3 linked regions of the Homo sapiens genome follow. The protein of the gene in region 1 purifies or fractionates together with the protein of each later gene. This does not show direct contact. Each region holds a gene or a part of one and is shown in the gene's direction. Other genes may lie near its edges. The genes, in order: ZNF169, MTCL2 and CLTCL1.

Region 1 (3,746 bases):
TATTCTGTTACATCTAATAAACAATCTTTGCATTAGTAAGATAACTTTAATTGCTATAGTGTTAAATGTCCTCAAGTTTAGTTTTTCCTTATCTTCTTGTAATCAATTGGAATTAAAAAAAAAACTTCAGAATCTTCTTCTTTATAACAGGAAAAAAAACCCCAGTATTTTTGGCATTTTTAGAAGTACATTCATACACACTGTCATTTAAAACATGGGGGTGGGAGGTGGAGCAAGATGGTGGAATGGAAGGCTCCACTGATCATTCCCCCTTGTAAGAAAAACAAGTTAACAACTATTTACACACAAAAGCACCTTCACAAGAACCAAAAATCAGGTAAGCACTCGCAGTACCTGGTTTTTACTTCATATGACTGAAAGAGGCACTGAAAAGGTAGGAAAGACAGTCTTGAATCACCAATGCCCCTGACCCATCCCCCAGCAGTGGCTCTGTGGTGCGGAGAGAGAATCTATGTTCTTGGGAGACGGCAAGCACAGCAATGATGAGACATTGCATTGAACTCAGTGCTGCCCTGTTATACCAGAAAGCAAAACTGGATCAAACACAGCTGATTCTCACGCATGGAGGGAGTATTTACACCAGCCTTAGCCCGAGGAGAATCACCTATCCCAGCAGTTGGAATTTGAGTTACTGCCAATCTCACCACCTCTGGCTAGAGGGCCCTAAATAAACTCGAAAGGCAGCCTGGGCCACAAGGACGGCTCACGCCTGTAATCCCAGCACTTTGGGAGCCTGAAGTGGGAAAATTGCTTGAGGCCAGGAGTTCCAGACCAGCCTGGTCAACATAGCGAGACCCAGATTCTTTTTTTTTTTTTTCCCCCTTGAGAAGGAATCTCACTCTGTTGTCCAGGCTGGAGTACAGTGGTGCGATCTTGGCTCACTGCAACCTCCACCTCCCGAGTTCAAAGTGATTCTCCTGCCTCACCCTCCTGAGTAGCCGGGACTACAGGCGCCCATCACGACGCCCAGGTAATTTTTGTATTTTTAGTAGAGACGGGATTTTACCACATTGGCCAGGCTGCTCTCGAACTCCTGACCTCTGATCCGCCCGCCTCAGCCTCCCAAAGTGCTGGGATTACAGGCGTGAGCCACCGCGCCCGGCCGCGAGACCCAGATTCTAAAAAACAAAACAAAAAATTAGCCCGGTGTGGTGCTATGCACCTGTATTCCCAGCTACTCAGAAAGTTGAGGTGAGAGGATTGCTTGGCCAGGGGTTTGAGGCTGCAGTGAGCTATGATCACACCATTGTACTGCAGCCTGGCCGACAGAGCAAGACCCCTTCTCAAAAAATAAGTAAGTAGATAAAGTTCAGGGGTGTACAATCACAGGTGTGAATTTGCAGGATGGAGGACATGTAACATCTTTTTAAAAAAAAAAAAAATTAGAAGGACCGTATAAAAAGTTAAAGAAGACTTACTGCTCACCTGACCACCCTTCTCATAGACCCGAAAGTTAGATTTTACTTTCTGATTTTTCACAATTTCTCCTGGATGCTGCGGTCCCGCCCCTCGCAGCATTCTGGATGTTGTAGTCCCTCGCTCCAGGGCATCCACGGTAGGGTAGTTGCGCGCCCCGTGGCAGTCTGGGTAGTGTAGTTCCGTGCCCAGGGGCAGTCCGGCTCGCGTACTTCCGCGTTCCGGCATCGTCGCCTGGTGCGTGGTGAGTGTCCTTTCACAGTTCTGGTGAGCTAGCCCGGAGGTGGTCCCCGCTTTCGCGGGCCTTCCACTGGAAGGAAGGTCGGGAAAGCTGGCATGGGCAGTCCATGTCGTGGCCACATGTTCCTTGGTGTTTTGAGTTTCGGCTGTGGGGTCTGGGCGTGCGTGGTCCACCCCGGAGAGAGGTCTTGGCGGAGGTCCTCTGGTGGGGAGGGGGCGTTGGCGTTGTCGCGTGCTTCTGGCGGGACTTTGGGCCCAGTATGTTGACCTGGAGGGGCCAGTGCAGGCCTGGGACCGACTTCCCGAGCTACTTCGCAGGTGCGTCCCCGGTACTTCGGGGGCCGCTGAGTGGGCTCTGCCTGGGGTACCCAGACAGCATCCTGCCACTAGTATCCCGCCATCCCCTCCCCACCATCGCGCCTCGGAGGTCTCTGGGCCAGCAAATGTGCCTTTGGAGGACATGATATCCTCGGTTGGAGCAAACTTCCCCATTAGTGGGAGGCACGCGGCTTGGGCATCAGTCGGGTTGTTTATTTGTTTATTTATTAAATTTTATTTATTTATTTATTTATTTTTGAAACAGAGTCTCTCTCTGTCGCCCAGGCTGGAGTGCAGTGGCGCAATCTCGGTTCACTGCAATCTCCGCGCCCCACCCCAGCCGCCGGGTTCAAGCCATGCTCCCGCGTCAGCCTCCCGAGCAGCTGGGATTACAGGCACCCGCCACCACGCCCGGCTAATTTTTTGGTTTTTGTTTTGTTTTGTTTTTTTGAGACAGAGTTTCGCTCTTGTCGCCCAGGCTGGAGTGCAGTGGCGTGATTCCCCTGCCTCAGGCTCCCGAGTAGCTGGGACTACAGGCGCACGCCACCACGCCCGGCTAATATTTTGTGTTTTAGTAGAGACGGGGTTTCACCATGTTGGCAAGGCTGGTCTCGAACTCCTGACCTCAAGTAATCCCCCCGCCTCGGCCTCCCAAAGTACTGGGATTACAGGCGTGAGCCACCGTGCCCAACCTCAGTCCAGTTATTAGGGCTCTTGTGGATGGCTGGTGCACTGTGGTGGTGATGGTGCAGCTTGGCCACTAGGACCCGGGTTTGTGGGGGAGGATTGTTTGTGGGTAGACATCCAGACTTGGTCTTGATAGTGGGGGGGGGGACGGCTAGGGCCGTGCGACTCGGGTCAGTAGCCTTGGGGCCTGGGGACCCAAGTTGGTGAGTTGAGAAGGGCTTGCCTGGAGTTAGACATCCCTGGGTTGTGGGTTGCATGGGGGCGTGCTTGTATCCAGATTGTCGGCTTCTGCAGCTGTGTGGCTCCCTCGGACTTGGGGACCCTTCCGGGAGCATGGGTTGCAACAAGCAGAATGGTGCCCATAGGGCCAAGGAACATTTTTCTCAAGCCTCAGGGGGCTGTTGAGTGACTCCTTGAATTCCTGGAGGTGGGGGAAGAAGTTGGGTGGAAGGCATCCAAACCTACATTTTTTTTTTTTTTTTTTTTTTTTTTGAGATGAAGTCTCACTCTGTCGCCCAGGCTGGAGTGCAGTGGAGTGATCTCAGCTCACTGCAACCACGGCCTCCCGGGTTCAAGCAATTCTCTGCCTCAGGCTCCTGAGTAGCTGGTACCACAGGCGCCCGCCACCACGCCCGGCTAATTTTTTTTGTATTTTTAGTAGAGACGGGGTTTGTTTTTTGTTTGTTTGTTTGTTTGTTTGTTTTGAGAGGGAGTCTTGCTCTGTCGCCAGGCTGGAGTGCAGTGGGGTGGCGCGGCGCGATCTCGGCTCACTGCAAACTCCGCCTCCCGGGTTCAAGGTATTCTCCTGCCTCAGCCTCCCGAGTAGCTGGGACTACAGGCACGCGCTACCACACCTGGCTAATTTTTGTGTTTTTACCATGTTGGCTAGGATGGTCTCGATCTCCCGACCTCGTGATCCGCCCGCCTCGGCCTCCCAAAGTGCTGGGATTTCAGGCGTGAGCCACCGCACCCCGCTCGAGACGGGGTTTCACCATGTTGGTCAGGCTGGTCTTGAACTCCTGACCTCCTGATCCACCGGCCTCGGCCTCCCAAAGTGCTGGGAT
Region 2 (3,746 bases), on another chromosome or scaffold:
CCCAAAGTACTGGGATTACAGGCATGAGCCACTATGCCAGACCAGCTTCTGGATTTTTGAATCACTGTTTGCCATCAGTCTCTTATGACCATTTCTAAGCCTCATGTGTAATTACGATTTGTTATATTCATTTTATTGTTGTTGTTTGTTCTTTGAGACAGGGTCTTGCTATGTTGGCCAGGCTGGTCTCAAACTCTTGGCCTCAGGCAATCCTCCTGTCTTGGCCTCCCAAAGTGTTGGGATTACAGGCATGAACTACCACATCCAGCCTCCATATTCATTTTATCCATTAGTATTCATTCTGAATTACAGTTCCCACTAGATGTCAGTTTCATGAAGACAGGATTTTCTCTGAGATGGAGATTTGCATGCAGAGGTTTATGGAAGAGTCTCCTTGGGAACAACACCACAGGGAGTGAGGCAGAGCTGGAAGCTGAATTACACCAGTGATCTCAGGCGATCCCATGGGGAGCTCTGGAGCTAGGATGGCCCTCCCTGTAGAGCTGAGGCAAGGGGTCATGGACCCATCCCTGGATGTGGGCTCCATCCACGGATAGCACCTGCCCTTGGACAAGGTGGTTCTCCTCAACCAATGGCTGTCGCTGGGAGAGGTACTCAGCTTTGAGGTCTCAGCTCTGGGAATGAGTGTCTCAGTTCCGAAGGGGAATCTGGGCAAAGCACCACAACATCCTCCCTGGTTCACTGCTGTGTTCTCTACACCTACCTACCTGGCGCTTGATAGGTGCTCAGGAAATCCTTTGATGAAAGACAAATGAGAACAGAAACACAGCTTTCCAAGTCTTCGCCGAGGCCAACTGGGTCACACATGGGAGCAGGCTGGAGGGGAGGAGCCCTGAGCAGGTGTTTTTAGAATCATCTTCTCCAATGCTTCTGGCCTATCTCCCATTGCTGCTCACTGGGTGATCTGGAGGGCTCCTCTTACTCAACAGTCAGTGCCATCAGGGTGGGGTGGCCTGGGGACTGGGGCCCTCCCTGGACCCTGGGCACTGTGACAGCTCTCTGCATGTGCATCATTCTGTGAGCTTTCAGTCCTGACTTTTTTTTTTTTTTTTAATTAAATCTCACTTCAGCATTCCTTGAAGAAAAGAGGAACCCGCTCCCTGGGGAAGGCCGATAAGAAGACTTTGGTGCAGGTAATTCCCAGCAGCCCCCGTAGGAAGGTTTTATTCTGAAGACCTGAGCCTGACTCTAAGTGGCCTGGGGATCCCAGATTCTGCCCTGTCCTCCCCTTGCTCATTTTCCTTTTTTTCTTTTCTTTTTTTTTTTTTTTTTTGAGACGGAGTCACACTCTCTTGCCCAGGCTGCAGTGCAGTGGCACAATCTCAGCTCACTGCAACCTCTACCTCCCAGGTTCAAGCAATTTTCATGCCTCAGCCTCCCGAGTAGCTGGGACTACAGGCGTGCACCACCACACCTGGCTAATTTTTGTATTTTTAGTAGAGACAGGGTTTCACCGTGTTGACCAGGCTGGTCTTGAACTCCTGGCCTCAAGCAATCCACCTGCCTCGGCCTCCCAAAGTTCTGGGATTACAGGTGTGAGCCACTGCGCCCGGCCCCCTTGCTCATTTTCTTAGTTTCACTGCCCACTTTATTTCCCAAAACCACATCCTGAGCCCATGGTTCTTAGATGCTTAGATGCTCGCTCCCCACCCCAGCCAGGAACTTAGCAAGCAGCACTACAGTCAAATCCAAAGGTCTAGAGTTGGAGACCCAGGCTTGAATCTTGGCTCTGCCACTTGACTGCCATGTGATTGGAGCGAGTCATTTTGAGTTTCTGGGCTCCATTTCCTATCTATCCCTGTCTTGGGGGTTCATTGGAAGAATTGGATGAAGTACTATATGCAGCAAAGGCCACATACCGTTAGCTCCTAGTGGTATGGGATTGTCAGAGTGCCAGGCCCTTTTCATCCTTAGCTCATTTAATCCCGTCTGTGGCTCTGGGAGGGAGGTAATGTTACCGCCCCATTTTACTGATGAAACTGTAGTGGCAGCAGTTGCTCATCAGTATGTCACCTGTTCCTGTACTCCCAGGCTATGTGTGGCGCCCCATCCTTGCTGTCATTTCAACATCTACCCCTCTGCGTCTCCCCCGGACCCTTAGCTCCTTGAGGGTCTGGCTGTGTCTGATTCATCCCTGTGTTCCCAGCACATAGTGCTCCCCAAAATGCCATGGCTGGTACTGAGACTCCCAGCACTAACCTTCCTGGGTTGTGTCTGTCTCTGTGGTCCCAGGAGGACAGTGCAGACCTGAAGTGCCAGTTGCACTTTGCAAAGGAGGAGTCAGCCCTCATGTGCAAGAAGCTCACTAAGCTTGCCAAGGAGAATGACAGCATGAAGGAGGAGCTGCTGAAGTACCGCTCGCTCTATGGGGACCTGGACAGCGCGCTGTCAGCCGAGGAGCTGGCCGATGCCCCCCACTCGCGGGAGACCGAGCTGAAGGTGCACCTGAAGCTGGTGGAGGAGGAAGCCAACCTGCTGAGCCGCCGCATCGTGGAGCTGGAGGTGGAGAACCGAGGCCTGCGGGCTGAGATGGACGACATGAAGGATCATGGAGGTGGCTGTGGGGGTCCTGAGGCACGCCTGGCCTTCTCCGCGCTGGGTGGCGGAGAGTGCGGGGAGAGCTTGGCAGAGCTGCGGCGACACCTGCAGTTTGTCGAAGAGGAGGCCGAGCTGCTGCGGCGCTCCTCTGCCGAGCTCGAGGACCAGAACAAGCTGCTGCTGAACGAGCTGGCCAAGTTCCGCTCGGAGCACGAGCTGGACGTGGCGCTGTCGGAGGACAGTTGTTCTGTGCTCAGCGAACCTTCACAGGAGGAGCTGGCGGCCGCCAAGCTGCAGATCGGCGAGCTCAGCGGCAAGGTCAAGAAGCTGCAGTACGAGAACCGCGTGCTCCTCTCCAACCTCCAGCGCTGTGACCTCGCCTCCTGCCAGAGTACGCGGCCCATGCTGGAGACGGACGCCGAGGCCGGGGACTCTGCCCAGTGTGTGCCTGCTCCCCTGGGCGAGACACACGAGTCCCATGCGGTCCGACTCTGCAGAGCCAGGGAGGCCGAGGTGCTGCCTGGGCTGAGAGAGCAGGCCGCCCTGGTCAGTAAGGCCATCGATGTCCTGGTGGCTGATGCCAATGGCTTCACGGCTGGCCTCCGGCTGTGTCTGGACAACGAGTGTGCTGACTTCCGGCTGCATGAGGCCCCCGACAACAGCGAGGGCCCCAGGGACACCAAGCTCATCCATGCCATCCTGGTGCGCCTGAGCGTGCTGCAGCAGGAGCTGAATGCCTTCACGCGGAAGGCAGATGCAGTCCTCGGGTGCTCTGTCAAGGAACAGCAGGAGTCCTTCTCATCACTGCCCCCCTTGGGCTCCCAGGGGCTCTCTAAGGAGATTCTTCTGGCAAAAGACCTTGGCTCAGACTTTCAGGTAAGGTGCCTCATGCACAGATCCTATTATTTATTTTTTTCCTTTGTTTTGTTTTGTTTTTCTTGAGATAGGGTCTCTCCCCGCTGGCCAGGCTGAAGTGCAGTGGTGCAATCTCAGTTCACTGCAGCCTCGATATCCTGGGCTCTAGCCATTCTCCCCCCCTCACTCTCCTGAGTACCTGGGACTACAAGTGAGCACCACCACACCCAGCTAATTTTTATTTATTTTTTATTTTTTTTGAGACGGAGTCTCGCTCTGTCACCCAGGCTGGAATGCAGTGGCGCAATCTCGGCTCACTGTAACCTCCAACT
Region 3 (3,746 bases), on another chromosome or scaffold:
TGACACTCAGGGGAACAGGAGAATGACCTAGTTATTTTCCAAGTGTTAGCAATCTTTAGAGTGGTGCATCGTTGTGGACAGACTCTTCCTTGTTCCCAGTGGCTTGTCAATTTCTTTGGCTCCTTATCGGTGGAGGATTCTGTGGAGTGTCTGCATGCCATGCTGTCTGCTAACATCAGACAGAACCTTCAGCTGTGTGTGCAGGTGGCCTCTAAGTACCACGAGCAGCTGGGCACGCAGGCCCTGGTGGAGCTCTTTGAATCCTTCAAGAGTTACAAAGGTAAACCATGCAGCCTCTCGCCGACCCCACCATGTGACTACACCTCCTTTCTCAGGTGTTGCTGCCTACCTGCCCGCCTTAAGACGGCCTTCCTGCAAAGCCAGGCAGGATGCAGCACTGGCTGCCTTGGGTGCTCAGTCGGTGGCAGAATGCTACTGCCATCTCATGTGCACCCTCAGCTTCAGTAACCTTTTTGGTATTTCCAAAGGAAGAAATCAGGTTGGTTGGTGATGGGATGGAGAAACTTATGGAGCCCGGTGTGTCTACGCAGCACAGTCTGGCAAGAATTCATCTAAAAGCCTGTGTCGTGGGTACAGTGAAAGGGCCTGATGTCTGGTCTTTACAGCCCCAGGAGGGAGGCTCTTTGGGCCTCTCCTAAATGAGAGCCCACGATAGAGGGTGCATTGCTTTGTGGTGTCTGCTACCCAGTTGATTGTGGGGGGCTGACAAGGTAACCTGGTTGTCTTCCTTTCCCCTTCTTGGACATCACACCAAAAAAGTGTTCTAGGGCAGTTGGGATGGGAGTGGCTTTGTTAGGGACAGATGGGGGCTGTCTGGCCCACCCAGGATAGAGACTAAGCATTTGTCTAGGCATCAAGCCACTGCCATGTGTCCAGTGAGGTTGGGGCATCGGTGGAGGGTGGGACATGACCCTGTCCTCAGGGAACTGGCCTTCTCTTTAGAAGACACCCCTGTAGGAAAGACCATGGCAGACGATTGAGTGGAGCTGGGCTGGGAGAGGGCAGTAGAGTAGGTTGGTGGAGAACCGTCAGCCCAGGGGCTGCCCATTCCCTTCCTAGCATCAGGGTCTCACAGTTACAGTGAAAGACCTCGACAGGGAGGGGCCTTCTCAGATGTGTCGTACCCTGTTGTTACTGGTGCCTCCTGGCTGGCCTCTGTAATGATGAGGAACATCATTAGCCTCTGTGAATGCTGTCCTCTGGGGCTCACCCTGGGGCTCAGCATGTGGTGCCCATGTCACTGTCAGCTCTGTGTTGAGTTGCAGGCCTCCTCCTGGAGGCCATGGCTTATTTCTCTGTCCCTTGATGTGTCTTTTTAGAGAAGCAGTCCCACCACCATTTCAGATTACCTCAGTGGGAATTACTCTTGATGACGACTATCTAGGTATACCTGGGCCCACAAAAGGAATTTCACTTGTACCAAATATCTAGTATTTTACATCAAAACATGCCAGGTATACCTGCCAAATATAATGGAAATCCGACTAGCTATTTTTGGGAGCTGCCAAAACAGACAAATGGCATATTGATTATGAGTTCTGAGTGTGCTGTGGGTCCCTGGAGAGTGGAGCAGGGTCATCGAGGGAAGGTGGGCAGCAGCTACGGAGGAGACAGGCAGGTGTTACAAGGACAAAAATGGAATGGTCTCTCTTCATAGGCCTCTTCTACTTCCTGGGCTCAATCGTGAACTTCAGCCAAGACCCAGATGTGCATCTGAAATACATTCAGGCTGCCTGTAAGACAGGGCAGATCAAGGAGGTGGAGAGGATATGCCGAGAGAGCAGCTGCTACAACCCAGAGCGTGTGAAGAACTTCCTGAAGGTGTGTTCCAGTGCTGCCTCCTTCCATGAGCTGCCCTTGCTGATGGCAGGTGGGGCAGACCATCCGCAGGACGTCCCAGGGGCAGGAAGCTGGATCTGTCTCGCCAGGGACCCCTTAGTCCCAGGGACAGAGCTCCACTTTATGGCTTAAAGTTCTAAAGTAACCCTTCTATCGTTTTAAGAGTGTGGAAAGCAGCTTGAGGCTGTGCTCTAAGTATCTGGCACTTATTGCTGCATTGTAATTCATCAACATCCCATTAGTGCCATTGTCAATTAGGCAGGCAAAGCTGCAGAAACAAGTAGACCACTCAGCACTAGTGTCATAAAGAACAGGAAGCCTACTTCCTTATGTGGCAGTCCAGGGTAGGCTGGAGGTCAGTGGGGTGACTTTCCTTCCCACTGTACTTCAAGGACCAGCTTCATGGCTGCTTTGCCGTGTTCAGCACCTCACCTGGATGTCGTCTTCCCAGTCAGCTAGAGGAAGGGAAGAGCACAGAGGAACCAGCATAGGTGGTTTTTATGGGCGAGGCCTGCAAGTGGCAGATGACACTTGGATTCACGTTCCATTGGAGGAAATGAGGTCATGTGGCCACACTTAAAACTTCAAAATGTGATCTAGGCACGGGACCACATGAGGGGAGGCATGATTGTGGTGGCCTGTGGCTGTCCTACCCAAGTGCCATCATCATCTGGGAATGGTGGCCGGGTGTGTTTCCATGGCCTGCGGCTGCGTGTCTGAAAAGGCAGCCCTTACCGCAGGTGTGCTGTTCTTGAGAATGGCCTGGTTTCTGTTGGGTTTGCACATAATGAGCTGCTTGTCTTAAAAGATATTTTTGTCCAGATTTGGAATGTTAATGCCAAATGTAGCAGTCTTTAACCAAATACTAATATCTTTCTCTCACTTATTTCCCAAAGCAAATGCCATACCACAAAACGACAGCCTATTTAGAGCAGTCTCATTCTGAGTCTCCTGTGTGTCACTCTGCTGCAGAGACAGAGCCGTCCCATGTGTGCAATGAGTCCGAGGTCTGGCTGTCTGGTTTCTCCACTCCCTGACTTGTTCTGTGCATTCTAATCCTCAGGAGGCCAAGCTCACAGACCAGCTTCCCCTCATCATCGTGTGTGATCGTTTTGGCTTTGTCCATGACCTTGTCCTATATTTATACCGCAACAACCTGCAGAGGTACATTGAGATCTACGTGCAGAAGGTACTGCTGGCTCCCTGGAGTGACACCCGGCTGCCTCTGGGCCCCAGTCAGTGGCAGTCTTCCCCTCAGAGGCTGCCTGTAACACCTGACATTTCAGAGACTATCATTTTGAAGGGTGGTGGGTTCGTGTGCTCAGACTGCCAGAGTAGAAGACCACAGTCCAGGCAGCTGAAACAACACACATTTATTTCTCACAGTTTTGGAAGCTGGAAGTCCATGATCAGGGTGTCGGCAGGGCTGGTTTCTGGTGAAGGCTGTCTCCCACGCTTGCAGACAGCCTCCTGGCTGTGCCCTCACAGGGCCTTTCCTCTGTGCATGTGCACTCCTGGTGTCTCTTCCTCTTCTTAGAAGGACACTAGTCCCATTACATTAGGGCCCCACCCTTGACATTGATTACCTTCTTAAACACCCTCTTTCCAAGTAGAATCCCACTAGGGGTTAGGACATCAGCAGGTGAATTTTGGTGGGACACAGCGCAGTGCTAAACAGGAGCCCTTTCAGGGTTTTGCCCAAACTGTCCACGTCGTAGGAGGCTTCTAACAATAACTTGTGTTTGCAACACTGAAGTTACTTGACCTTGACTACCCTAGGTCAACCCTAGCCGGACCCCAGCTGTGATTGGAGGGCTGCTTGATGTGGATTGTTCTGAGGAAGTGATTAAACACTTAATCATGGCAGTGAGAGGACAGTTCTCTAC

Evidence for each region.
Region 2: the proteins of ZNF169 (region 1) and MTCL2 purify together in Homo sapiens (affinity purification with mass spectrometry; 2 studies listed by BioGRID and IntAct, with this or other methods). This does not show direct contact.
Region 3: the proteins of ZNF169 (region 1) and CLTCL1 purify together in Homo sapiens (affinity purification with mass spectrometry; 2 studies listed by BioGRID and IntAct, with this or other methods). This does not show direct contact.

What each region holds. Positions count from the first base shown.
Region 1 is NC_000009.12:94,257,665-94,261,410, forward strand, and holds the start of ZNF169 (zinc finger protein 169), read left to right. Parts: upstream 1-1,633; 5' UTR 1,634-1,681; intron 1,682-3,746. UniProt on the Homo sapiens protein: May be involved in transcriptional regulation.
Region 2 is NC_000020.11:36,814,815-36,818,560, reverse strand, and holds part of MTCL2 (microtubule cross-linking factor 2), read left to right. Parts: intron 1-1,091; coding exon 1,092-1,154; intron 1,155-2,253; coding exon 2,254-3,435; intron 3,436-3,746. UniProt on the Homo sapiens protein: Microtubule-associated factor that enables integration of the centrosomal and Golgi-associated microtubules on the Golgi membrane, supporting directional migration. Preferentially acts on the perinuclear microtubules accumulated around the Golgi.
Region 3 is NC_000022.11:19,221,987-19,225,732, reverse strand, and holds part of CLTCL1 (clathrin heavy chain 2), read left to right. Parts: intron 1-99; coding exon 100-280; intron 281-1,678; coding exon 1,679-1,842; intron 1,843-2,923; coding exon 2,924-3,049; intron 3,050-3,639; coding exon 3,640-3,746. UniProt on the Homo sapiens protein: Clathrin is the major protein of the polyhedral coat of coated pits and vesicles. Two different adapter protein complexes link the clathrin lattice either to the plasma membrane or to the trans-Golgi network.